Homo sapiens: one gene and its partners. The protein of the gene in region 3 purifies or fractionates together with the protein of the main gene of each other region. This does not show direct contact. Each region holds a gene or a part of one and is shown on either strand. Other genes may lie near its edges. The genes, in order: PRELID3B, STK38L and SCO1.

The links.
Region 1: the proteins of SCO1 (region 3) and PRELID3B purify together in Homo sapiens (co-immunoprecipitation; one large-scale study listed by IntAct). This does not show direct contact.
Region 2: the proteins of SCO1 (region 3) and STK38L purify together in Homo sapiens (pull-down; one large-scale study listed by IntAct). This does not show direct contact.

What each region holds. Positions count from the first base shown.
Region 1 is NC_000020.11:59,039,900-59,043,999, reverse strand, and holds the start of PRELID3B (PRELI domain containing protein 3B), read left to right. Parts: upstream 1-1,213; 5' UTR 1,214-1,269; coding exon 1,270-1,301; intron 1,302-4,100.
Region 2 is NC_000012.12:27,313,665-27,317,312, forward strand, and holds part of STK38L (serine/threonine-protein kinase 38-like), read left to right. Parts: intron 1-839; coding exon 840-994; intron 995-1,350; coding exon 1,351-1,453; intron 1,454-1,624; coding exon 1,625-1,686; intron 1,687-3,648. UniProt on the Homo sapiens protein: Involved in the regulation of structural processes in differentiating and mature neuronal cells.
Region 3 is NC_000017.11:10,694,728-10,698,852, reverse strand, and holds the start of SCO1 (protein SCO1 homolog, mitochondrial), read left to right. Parts: upstream 1-1,319; 5' UTR 1,320-1,345; coding exon 1,346-1,618; intron 1,619-3,021; coding exon 3,022-3,112; intron 3,113-4,125. UniProt on the Homo sapiens protein: Copper metallochaperone essential for the maturation of cytochrome c oxidase subunit II (MT-CO2/COX2). Not required for the synthesis of MT-CO2/COX2 but plays a crucial role in stabilizing MT-CO2/COX2 during its subsequent maturation.

The DNA of each region.
Region 1 (4,100 bases), on a different chromosome or scaffold from region 3:
AGGCAGTCTGTTCCCTGGACAAGGCTCATCTCTGAATGAAACCACATGCCACCTCCTCCTGCCCCAGCAATTCTTAGTCATTCTTTCATCCATTGATGCAACAAATAATTGTCATTTAGGAAGGGGGAAATCACTGAACAAGTCTGGCAAGAGCCTCGCCCTCAGGGGCTTACAGTCTAGCGGAAGTTACAACAAATAAACTAGATGACTCCATTAATTCATTCATCCCACAAATAGCTATTGATTTTTTTCATTTTTCAATAAGTAGTCATTGAGCCTTGACTATATGGGAGACACTGAGGATGATTTTTGAGCAAGACCGGCAAGATTCTTGCCTTCAAGAACTCAGTTCGATTGTGAATTTTCACAAATAAATTAACAAGATGATGTCAGAGGGGTAAGTGCTATAAAAAATGCAACAGGATATTGTGACGGAGCAGAGCAACAAGGTGAGAAACGGTGACGAGGGAAGTCTCTCTGGGAGAGACATCTCAGCTCAGATCCATCCTATGCACCTAGGGCAAGGTGTGCCCGGCCAGGAAGCTTTTCTACCCGACCCCTGGCACCGTGCTTCCGGACCGCATCCCTCGTAGGGGTATTATTCATGGGCAGGTCTGATGTTAGCTTCTCCGCGTCACGCCTTATTTATCCCCTCCGAGGGCTGCAAGCTCCTGGCGGGCAGGTGGGACTGGCCCAGCTGATCGGCTGGGTGGCTGGTGGATTTGGGAAAACAGCCCGGGCTGACCCAGGAGGTGGCTGGAACTCTCTATAGGGCACCAGGAAATTTTGCACAAGTGACCACCACAACGAACATCTATGTCAGCAGGCTGACCGCATGCGTCCACACGCCTCGAAATGCCAGGCGAGGATGTGCTGGGCCAGAAGGACAAGGAGGGCCAAGCGGGCGCGCAGGCACCTCCTGGACCTGACCCAACTCTGCCCAGAGGTCAAGGCTCGCTACAAGCCCGCCGCGCCTGCGCAGCACAGCGCCCGCGCCGGCCCCTCCAGCTGCCGTCGGCGGCACTGCGCCGGCGCGATGCGCCCGGCGCTAAGAGGCGGGGTTTCCTTGCGCCGCGCGCAAGGCTGGGGCAAAACCCGGGCCGGGATAGGGCGTGGGGCCGCGCGTCTGGACGTCCCTCGCGTCGGGCCCGACAGCGCCTGCGCACTGCGCCGCCGGCTGGGGTGCTGGGGGCGGGGCAGGGGCAGGTGTAGCCTCTGTGCCTCGTTGTCCCCTGGCGCTACCCGGACATCTCTCAGGGTGCCGGCACCATGAAGATCTGGACTTCGGAGCACGTCTTTGAGTAAGTTTGGGGCGCGGGTCGGCTCCGTGGAGGGCAGGCACGCCGGCCCTGGAGTAGAGGCGAGGCAGAGGCGGCCCGCAGGAGGCTTCTAGGCGTCGGGCCTAGCGAGGGGAGCGAACTCTGAAGCCTGCGGGCCCCGGCGACACGGAGGGCAGACCAAGGTCACGACCCCGAGGCGCCCTAGCCGAGGGGACGGCTCCGACCTCCAGACCCAGGCGGCCTTGCGACCGGCAGGGCTACGGGGTCACTTCCGGGCTGTCCCCCACCATGAGGTAGCCTCGGGCCGGCGGCCTCCTGAGGTCCTGGGGGCGTCGCGGAGCACGAAGCCCTTGACAGCACTCAGGGTTGCCCCATCCCGCCCTGTGAAACCACTTTGGGACGTGGACCCGAGGATCCCAAGAGGGAGGTGTTGGTTTTCTCCAGAGTGTACTTTCCCTGGCCGCCGTTTGGGTGGAGTTTCTACCTTCGAATGTGAATTTCGGGTGAACTCTGACCACCAGGATGTGAAGCCTTTTCACAACTCGTTCATCTACGCAGCAGAGCCTTGGATTTGGAATTCAAGGTCTAGCTCTGGCTGTAACAAGCGTGTGACCCTGGGTTACCCATTTTCATCTGAGAGATGGAAAAGGACGATCGTCAGGGCCTACCCGTGTTAGCTCTTTGAGGCCACGTTCAGGAACATCTTTTTGGATAATGTGAACTGTTTACTAACGAAACTAAGCCTTGAACCAGTTGGATGTGGAGAATTATATTCTCTTCTAGGTCCCTGATTCCATTTACAAAAGAGCCACAAATTTAAGCAGCGAAATCCTTTTTTTTCCCGAGTTACCTGCTCTGTTCCGCTGATCTTAATGTCGTTGCCACACTGTTTTAATTAGTATAGCCTTGTAAATAAATATGCTACAAAGCCATTTATGTTTTTAAAACTGTCTCTGAAGGCAAATTTTTTTTAAATTTCTTTTTTGAGGCAGAGTCTCGCTCTGTTGCCCAGGCTGGAGAGTAGTGGCGTGTTCTTGGCTCACTGCAACCTCCGTCTCCCGTGTTCAAACGATTCTCCTGCCTTGGCCTCCCAAGTAGCTGGGATTACAGGCGCCCACCACCGCGCCCGGCTAATTTTTGTATTTTTAGTAGAGACGGAGTTTCACCATGTTGGTCAGGTTGGTCTCAAAGTGATTCGCCCTGGTCAGGTCGCACCTGACCTCAGGTGATTCGCCCGCCTTGGCCTCCCAAAGTGCCGGGATTACAGGTGTGGGCCACTGTGCCCGGCCTCTGAAGGCAACTTTTAAAACGTTGTCCGCATTTGTACTCAGTGGGACACATCCTAGGGCCTGCTGTATCCTGCAAAGTATAGAATACTGGAATCAGAAGGAAGCTTTCTTTTCCCCCTACTGTTTAGTCTTTTTGGGAGGAAAAAGACCCGAAATTTGTGGTCATTTAGATGTTCATTAACCTGGTCGCATTCATCACTAGTCCATTTCAGCTCCGAGGATGTTTAATTTCAGTCCTCTTCCAGGTTTGCATGCTTCAGTCCTCTTCTGGGTTTGCATGCTTCAGAGGTTCTCGGCACTCAGTCTCCCTAGAACTGTCTTCTCCCATATCTTCCCTAACTCTTCTTCCTGGCTCATCCCCTCCTTCCCTCTACACTCTTTCTGCCTTTGTCTTCAGCGCTTCCCTGTCTTTTCCCATTCAGTGTAAATGTTCAGTGAGATTCTGTGTTGGCCTTCCTATATTGGATTTTACCTGTGATCTTAATTTCTTTTTTGTTTCTCTTTTCGTCACAGACTTTTTTTTTGTCCTGGGAGAAGCAGCCCTGATCCGTGCTTTCTCCCCACATAATCTGAGCTGTTTGGTCAAAGTCCCAAATGATAGGTATACATTTATGGCACCCAGATCTGTACCTTGAGCTCCAGCCTCTCTTGAGCTCCGCTTTTCATTTTCAGGTGCCTGTTAGGCATTGCTACCCTCGTGTCCCACAGGCCCTTAAAACTCAGCCTGTCTGAAATTGAAGTCATCATCTCCCCTGACAAATCTGAGCGTTGTTTCTGATCTTTAGGATGTCACTCTCTAACAATGTCTAAGTCATCATTCTACATCTTATCTGTCTTTGATTTTCCAACACTTTTCTTCTGAGGCCTATAGTTGGCATCCAGGTGAAGTCATTCATTGATTCCTTCAACTTATAGAGATGCCCAGTATGTGTCAGCCACTGTTCTTTGGATTGATTACATTTTCATAAGTAAATCAAGACCTCGATGCTGCGCCAGTGGAGTTAATAATGTCCTCACCTCGTTTCAAAGGTGAAGAAGTTGGACCGGTCAGTGAGCCATAGCCAGGTCCTCCTGATTCTACTTTGGCGTGGTCTTTGAATGTCTTCCATTGTGAGATCTTTTCCACGTAATTATGTTAATACAGCTCAGATTAATTGCTGGAAGATTAATCATAATAAGTATTGTTTGTAATGTTTGAGCTGGTTATGGTTCATAAAGCAATCTTGAGCCAAGCTAAGTCAACATCAGTGGTTTCAAGTTGGTTCAGAAAGGAGAGATGGACTAAATTACAAATAATGCATAACCACCCTGAAGTCATGCGATTATTAATTTTTTAGAGAGGGTTGGGGGAAGAGGTAAGGGCATGGAAGCCAGCTAACCATGGCATATGACTGGATGGAGACCTGGGGAGGGTTCATCTGATTTTCATTTTAGAGAGTTGCCTTGGTAAGAATCAGTGCTTGGCCTGTATGCTTCGATTTGTCGGGACACTTCAGATTGATGAAGCAACTCTGCTTATATACCTGCATTG
Region 2 (3,648 bases), on a different chromosome or scaffold from region 3:
GAACCACTGCCCCTGGCTCCCTATTTTTTTTAAAGCCTCAAAAAATATATGAAAAAAATGTAATCAGTTGTCAATTCTGTGTTGTAAGTGCACCAGTGTTTACAACAGTTAAAACTGTTAAAACTTTTAAAATTCCTTGAAAATAAAAGAATGTCTGCAGGTGCCTTTTTTAGTGGGATAATGTCCCACTAAACTCTAAAAGAATATATTTCGTTTCCAGGTGCACTTATTCTGATTTTTTTGCAGTTTGACATTTTCCTCAGCAGTTAATTCTAGAAGTTGAGTGGTAGATATTACTTCATTATCAGCTCTTTTGTGATTTGATTTCACATGGTCTCTGCCTTAAAACCATTAAAAGTCATGAAACTTCTGCTATGCAATAGCACTTTTATTTGTCCCAAGATGTGGTTAGAAATATACTGGGTAGATCATAAAATGCAAACTCAGGAAAGCTAGCTGGGCATGGTGGCTCATGCCTGTAATCCCAGTACTTTGGGAGGCCAAGGCAGGCAGATAGCTTGAAACCAGGAGTTTGAGACCAGCCTGGCCAACATGGCAAAACCCCATCTCTACTAAAAATACAAAAATTAGCTGGGTGTGGTGGTGCACACCTGTAATCTCAGCTACTTGGGTGGCTGAGGCATGAAAACTGTTTGAACCCAGGAGGCGGAGGTTGCAGTGAGCCATGATCACACCACTGCACTCCAACCCAGGCAACAGAGTGAGACTCTGTCTCCAAAAAAAAAAAAAAAAAAGTAAAAAAAGCAGGAAAGCTTTTACAAGGTATTCCACCTTTGAGGCATTTTCAATAATAATATATTTGACTATCCTTTATTTAGGTGACATGATGACATTGCTAATGAAGAAAGACACCTTGACAGAAGAGGAAACACAGTTCTACATTTCAGAGACTGTTCTGGCAATAGATGCGATCCACCAGTTGGGTTTCATCCATCGGGATATTAAGCCAGACAACCTTTTATTGGATGCCAAGGCATGTGAATAAACTGGTGAATTACTAGGCTGTTGATTATTTTTTAGAGCAGTAGGGCTGATTTTGTGAATGGAAATCAGCAACTGCAATTTAGAATATTGCTAAACAACATTATATGATAAGGTACTAGGAGAGGACTTGGGAATTAAATGACAACAGGGAATATGGCTCTCTTTTTATCTCCCTCCATTTTCTACTTTTAAAAATCATCATCAGATACTTAAAATTTTACATTTTACGTGTATAAATCCCAAGCTAAGAATTTTTATTATAATTGCCATTTAATAGAGGAGTTTATAACAAGGCTTTTTGTTTTCAAAGTTAATATGATCTAATTTTACTGGATTTTTTTTTAGGGTCATGTAAAATTATCTGATTTTGGTTTATGTACGGGATTAAAGAAAGCTCACAGGACTGAATTTTATAGAAATCTCACACACAACCCACCAAGTGACTTCTGTAAGTTTGGTTGTTGTTTTTCTTCTTTCCCCTGGTTAAGATACTGTAGAGAACAGAAGGTTCTTTCCCTTTCCCCACTCCTTAATCCACTGTGTTTTAGATGTATATGTATTTTCTTTTTGTGGAGAGCATTTTTCCCTCGTGATTACAATTCCATATTGTTGAAATTAGCATTTCAGAACATGAACTCAAAGAGGAAAGCAGAAACTTGGAAGAAGAACAGGAGACAACTGGTGAGTCAACCAGTTTTTAAGAGAATTTTATGCCTTGGTTCTAAAATCTTACCTGGTTTTAACTTGATTATTTTTATCTTTATAATAATTAGTATTTACTTCATAACAATGGTAGCGCTTGCTCTGGGATCACACAGTTTTCTTAGTTTCTCTGTTAAGTTTCCTTGCCTGTAAAGCAAAGTGTTGGTTTTTACTTTGTAACTTTAGAGTAGTTTACTGAGCATACCTACAAGTAAGCTGTTTACTAGTAATTAGCACTTTAAATAAAACTCACTGAGGTGAATGCAATTGTAATGAATGCCTTGTGATTTCCATTTTTCCATTTTTCATAACTGTGTTACAAATCCTGATACAACAAATATCAATCAGCAAGTAAGGTGGTTGTGAGTTTCTAAAAACTTCTTTATAGACAAAGTAAACAGGAAGTTTGGGATGTAAACAGTGTTACAATAAAACAGATAAAATTTGAAAAAGCTGGCTTTGCCACAGATAAATTTAATTACTCCTTTAATATAGAATTACATTATTTTTAACCCCATACTATTTCCTTTCTATAACTGAGCAAATAGAAGAATTGCTTCCCCTTTCTCCTCTTTCCCTTTGTCCTGTTAACATGGTCCATCAACAGTCTACAGGTTAAGAATGTGCCTTAGGATTTTCTTTTTCTCATTTCTTATAAAATGCCTGGCACATACGGACACTCTATAAATACTTGTTCAACCAAATGATGAAAGGAAAACTAATTCAGCATTCCCTCAGGAAAGTAAACAGACTGAAAAATAATAGGCTAATACCCTCTAAAACCAAATAAAATGACCTTTGCATTATTGAGCTTATTATCTCATTAACCTAAGTAACTGCAAAAACTTGTAAAACATTTCAGTATTTTTAAATGTATTGAGTTACACATTAAGGAGAAAAACTTTGTTCTACTTTTAAAATGTGTCCATTTTAGATCAGGTTTTGCAATTGAGAATAATTGCAATATTCCCTATTTTTAAAGGGGAAAAACTGAATACTGCTCAAAATTATGGTGGGGGAATTCTGTACCCCCCTATTTACAAAATATTCATGGGTGATTACTCAGGTGTGTGTTTTATTATTCTCATGGCCAGTAGTTGCCAAGCCTTAGATCGAGTGTTTCCCAAGGGAGAAGTAGAGAGGACTCAGTGTTTGGGGCAGGAAATTTCTTTAGCACCTGGATCCCCTGCCCTGTAAATGCCAGTTATGTCACTGAGATGACAAAATCTGTGGTCCTACATTTTGCCATGGCCCCAAGAGTACTACCCCTGGTTGAGAATTACTGCCTTGTAGAAATCATTTTTGTAAGATTTTATATGAATTAAGAATTAAAAACTGCATAGCTTCCTAAAGGATAAGCAGTACCCTGGAATTACATTTATAATGAAAATACCTCATGCTTATTTTTGTAGTTTGTAGTTTACAAAACACATGCCGTTTATTGTTTCATCTTCATATCAACTCTATTAGGGCAGGTATTATTATTCTAGTTTTATGTAAGCAGAAGCTGAGCCTCAGAGAAATTGAATAATTTGCCCAAGAACACATTAGTAGTGAGTGGGGAAGCCAGGTCTTCTAGGTTCAACTTTTTCATTCTTTTTGAAATAGACTGAAGGCTATATATATAAATAACTTAACTGAGCTTCTTGTGGGGGCAGAAATGATATATTCTTATAAAATGCCTGGCACATATGGACACTCTATAAATATTTGTTCAACTAAGTGATGAAAGGAAAACTAATTCAGCATTCCCTCAGGAAAGTAAATAGACTGAAAAATAGTAGTCTATAACATATTATCTGACTCACTACCTACCACTAAGCCTTGCACATGATAAACATGCAAAATAAATACAAGTGAAAATTTAACTCCTCTATATATTGCTTTTTCCAGTAGTAAGCCATCCTCAGATAGATATTTTTTAAATGTTAAGAATGCTGG
Region 3 (4,125 bases):
ACACAAAGATAAAAGAGCAAAAATCCTACCCACAGGCAACTATAAGATAGAAAAAAATAGTTTGATTAACGACTTGAAGTGCTGAACAAACATTTAAGAACTTTGGCAGAAATTTCTGAAAATTCTAGTCCAACCGCGAATCAAGAAACACAGGTAACACTATGTTCCGTTACTGGGTTAGAGAACAGAACAGTTGGCTAGTTTGGCTAACTCATAGAAAACAAGCAAACCAACCATGCTCTGGTCCAACAATCATCAGAGCACGAGTTTCTCCTACTCAGAGTCGGTCCCATGGGGGAAAAAAAAGCCACACAGGAGCGGGATCTGTAGTTAAGGAAGATAATTAGAGGACGATTTTCCTTTTTTTATTTCTCTGTATTTTGTAAAGCAACCACCGAGGTAGGGGCGGGGAGGGAGTGGTTAATATTGCGGATATTAAGATATAAATAAAGGCAGATGAAATGAAGTTAGACTTTCACAAAGAACGAAAAACCTACGAATGCTCTTGGCCTCATTAACAAGGAACATAAGCAGTTCCAGATGAGGAACCCATAACAAACTTCAAATAACGAAACTGTAGGGAGCAAGGGAGTCCGTGAGAGTATTTTAAGAAACTGGGACCCAGGAAGACTAAGTTAACGGATGGGATATCATGCTGTCTATATTTCTTTACACACTGCTATGCTTTATTAATTAGGTTACATTATAATGTTAAATAACTAGAAGCGCTGGGCATTTAAAGTTCTTCCAGACCGCCCTAACCACTCAAATTATCCTAATTAGCAATTTTTTTTAAGTTAAAGACTATTTCAATCGCAATGGGTCGGTTTCTATTTCAAAGATGTAAAGGAGTCAACATTCTGGCACTTCCTCTTGGCCGGCAGGACGAGGTTGACAAAGTCGGCCAGACAAGGTAGGGTTATGGGGGCTGCCCAGTCCCGTGGGTCTCTAGGCAGTGTGTTCTCTCTTCCGAGGTGGGGGTGTCCCCGGCGCGAGGAGCTAGCTGTGGTCACCGAAGCCCACGACCAAAGCGGGGGCCCCCAGCGCTTGGGGCCGCCTTGCCTCGGCCCAGCCGCGCACCTGGACCCCTAAGGCAGCCCCCTTCCCGGCGCTCCGCTGTCCCGCGGCCCCGCAGCACCGCCCAGCCCGCGCCAGACCCGCCTCCAGCCGCAGGGAACTACCTACCGTGCGCCGGCCCCTGGGCTGAAAGGCCTCTGACTACGGGCTATGTAACAGCGCCACCAACGAGCGGGACGGACAGAGCGACTCCTTCCGACTTCCGGAGGAAGCGGAACGCTACCGGAAATCGCGGGGAGGGTCAAAGGAGACCCGGTCTCCGAGGCTCATGGCGATGCTGGTCCTAGTACCCGGACGAGTTATGCGGCCTCTGGGTGGCCAACTTTGGCGCTTCTTGCCTCGCGGACTCGAGTTTTGGGGCCCAGCCGAGGGGACTGCGAGAGTCTTGCTGAGGCAGTTCTGCGCGCGGCAAGCGGAGGCGTGGCGTGCCTCGGGGCGCCCTGGCTATTGCCTGGGAACCCGGCCCCTCAGCACTGCGAGGCCGCCACCCCCGTGGTCGCAGAAGGGCCCCGGAGACTCCACGCGCCCCTCGAAGCCCGGGGTGAGTGCACACCTGGAACCCTTCTGGTGCTCGTCGCGGCTGTCGGCCAGCCCAGCGGCCACATCCCACTTGGTCGTAACCTCAGACACTACTCCGCCTCCCCTAAAGTTGTCCTTAGCTTGCGCGCCTTACCTGGGTCATGGAATTTCATCCTACATTTCCCGTGCCTTGCGGGTAGTCCCAGTTCTCCACAGAGAACTTGAGACTTTACACCCTCTCCACGTGGCTGGATGCCCCGACTTGGATTTTATGTTAGCGTTTCCATCAAAAAAAAAAAAAAAATTAAGTTTCAGGTTTTCTTAAGGGTATGAACCTAAAGTTTACCGTGATTGAGAAGTCAGAGGACTTTTATAATTTGTCACTTGAGCCCCATCCAGAGTTCCATGTATACGTTGAAATTGAAACAAAAAGTGGAACTTAGTTATGTGTGGATCTGCCTTTTTCTTGGGGTTCTCTCGAGTTCTAATTCTGACCCAGAAATAACTTGAGAGCCACTACCCTGTGGTAAGAGAAGTGGGTTTTTGGAGCTACGGGAAGGTTAATGAGTTAGGCCTAGTCTAGTTGGCCAACATCATCTTCATTTGGGGAGTTGAATAAGGGTACAAAGAAATAATGGGTGTAATTTGCAAGAAGCTCCACTTTTAGATTCCTCTTCTACTTTGGCATTGTTACTTCTGGAAGCCAGAGTTAAGTTAACCTCCCAAATTTCGTTTGGTCTATTTATCTCAGTATCAGCATAAGCAGATAATTGTTTTTTGTGTGTGTGTTTTTGGATTTTGGTTTTTGTTTTGAGACGGAGTTTTGCTCTTTTGCCCAGGCTGGAGTGCAGTGGCCCTATCTCGGCCCACTGCAACGTCCGCCTCCCGGGTTCAAGCGATTCTCCTGCCTCAGCCTCCCGTGTAGCTGGGTTTAGAGGGGTCCGCTACCACGCCCGGCTAATTTTTGTATTTTCAGTGGAGATGGGGTTTCACCATGTTGGCCATGCTGGTCTCAAACTCCCGACCTCAGGTGATCCACCCGCCTCCGCCTCCCAAAGTGCTGGGATTACAGGCGTGACCCACCGCGCCCGGCCATAATTGGTTTTAAAGTCATTACTGGAGCTAGGGTCACACATAGTAACAATCGTGGTACTTGAGCTTTTTTTTTTTTTTTTTTTTTTTTTTATTTACATGAAGAGAACTGACTTAGGGAACTTTCCCCTGGAGATGAATGCCTTTGTAGTTCAGATCCCAGACCTAACTGCATCCACAGAAACTTTGAGCATTTTCTCATCCCTGAAACATTTTGCACATTTAACATCATGGCCTGTGTGTATGTATATTAAAAACTACTTTAATAAGTTTGTATGGTTAAATGTTTGCATCTTACTAGAATTTTTATGTTTGAAATCCCTGCCCCAGTAGCCTGTTTCCTGGAAGTCTTTAGCAATCACATTTGCTATTGGAGGAGCTTTACTGGCTGGAATGAAGCACGTCAAGAAAGAAAAGGCAGAGAGTAAGTAGATTATCATCTGCTCAGCCCTGTATAAAGGTCTTCCTGGCTATGGACTAGCACCTTTTTTGTTGTTTTTTAGCTTTTTGTTTTGAAACAACTTTAGATTTACCAAAAAATTGCAAAGATAGCATAGGTTCTACATACCTTTCACCCAGCTTCCCCTAATATTAACATCTTGTATAACCATGACACATTTTTCATGACTAAGAAATTTTAAATGGCACACAACTATTAAATTACAGATTGTATTTGGATTTCACTTGTTTTTCTATCAATGTCTTTTATTTGTTCCAGGATCCAAGCTAGGATACCACTGCATAACAATGTTAAAAGATATACTGTGGATAGATTTGACTGGGCAAGATGAAATCTGGAGGGTACGAAGATGAGTAAGATGTAGTCGAGCCTTTGAGGTGCACACGGAAGGGAAACAGACACAGAAGTAAAGTATTTTACTAGATGCGATTCTGCCAGGCCAGAAGGAAGCTTACCATGTTGTGAGAGCAAAAGCAAGTCCCAGCCTTGAGATTTGAGAAGGCTTCCTAGAGATCAGGCAAGGAGCATAGTGCGAGTAGATACTGCATGCCCTCTGTGGATGAGGGGGAGGTGAAAAGAGCCTGGTCAGGAAATGCCAGGAACTGCTCTGGATTAGCATCTTGAAATATTTAGAAATTATTTATAAGAACTTTGCATTTTAGTGAATATCCTAGGACTTTTAAGATTTGGTTTAGAGGTTTTAGGTAAATCTTTAAAGTATTGCTTAAATCTTTCCATTCTTTGGAGTCTCTTTTGATAACATTATATACAAAGGTTAATGATTAAATCTGGGAATTCATAGGCTTTAGGAACTTAGCAGTGTTAAGTTTTGTACTGACATACATATATATGAGACTCTTTGGCATAATAAGTAGTATTGGGTAAGATTTTCATAGTCTAATAAGCAGTAAGTTTCTTTAGTTTCACAAAGAAACAAAAGCTAGGAAAGTTGTGGCGGGAAAATTCTAGAATATGGA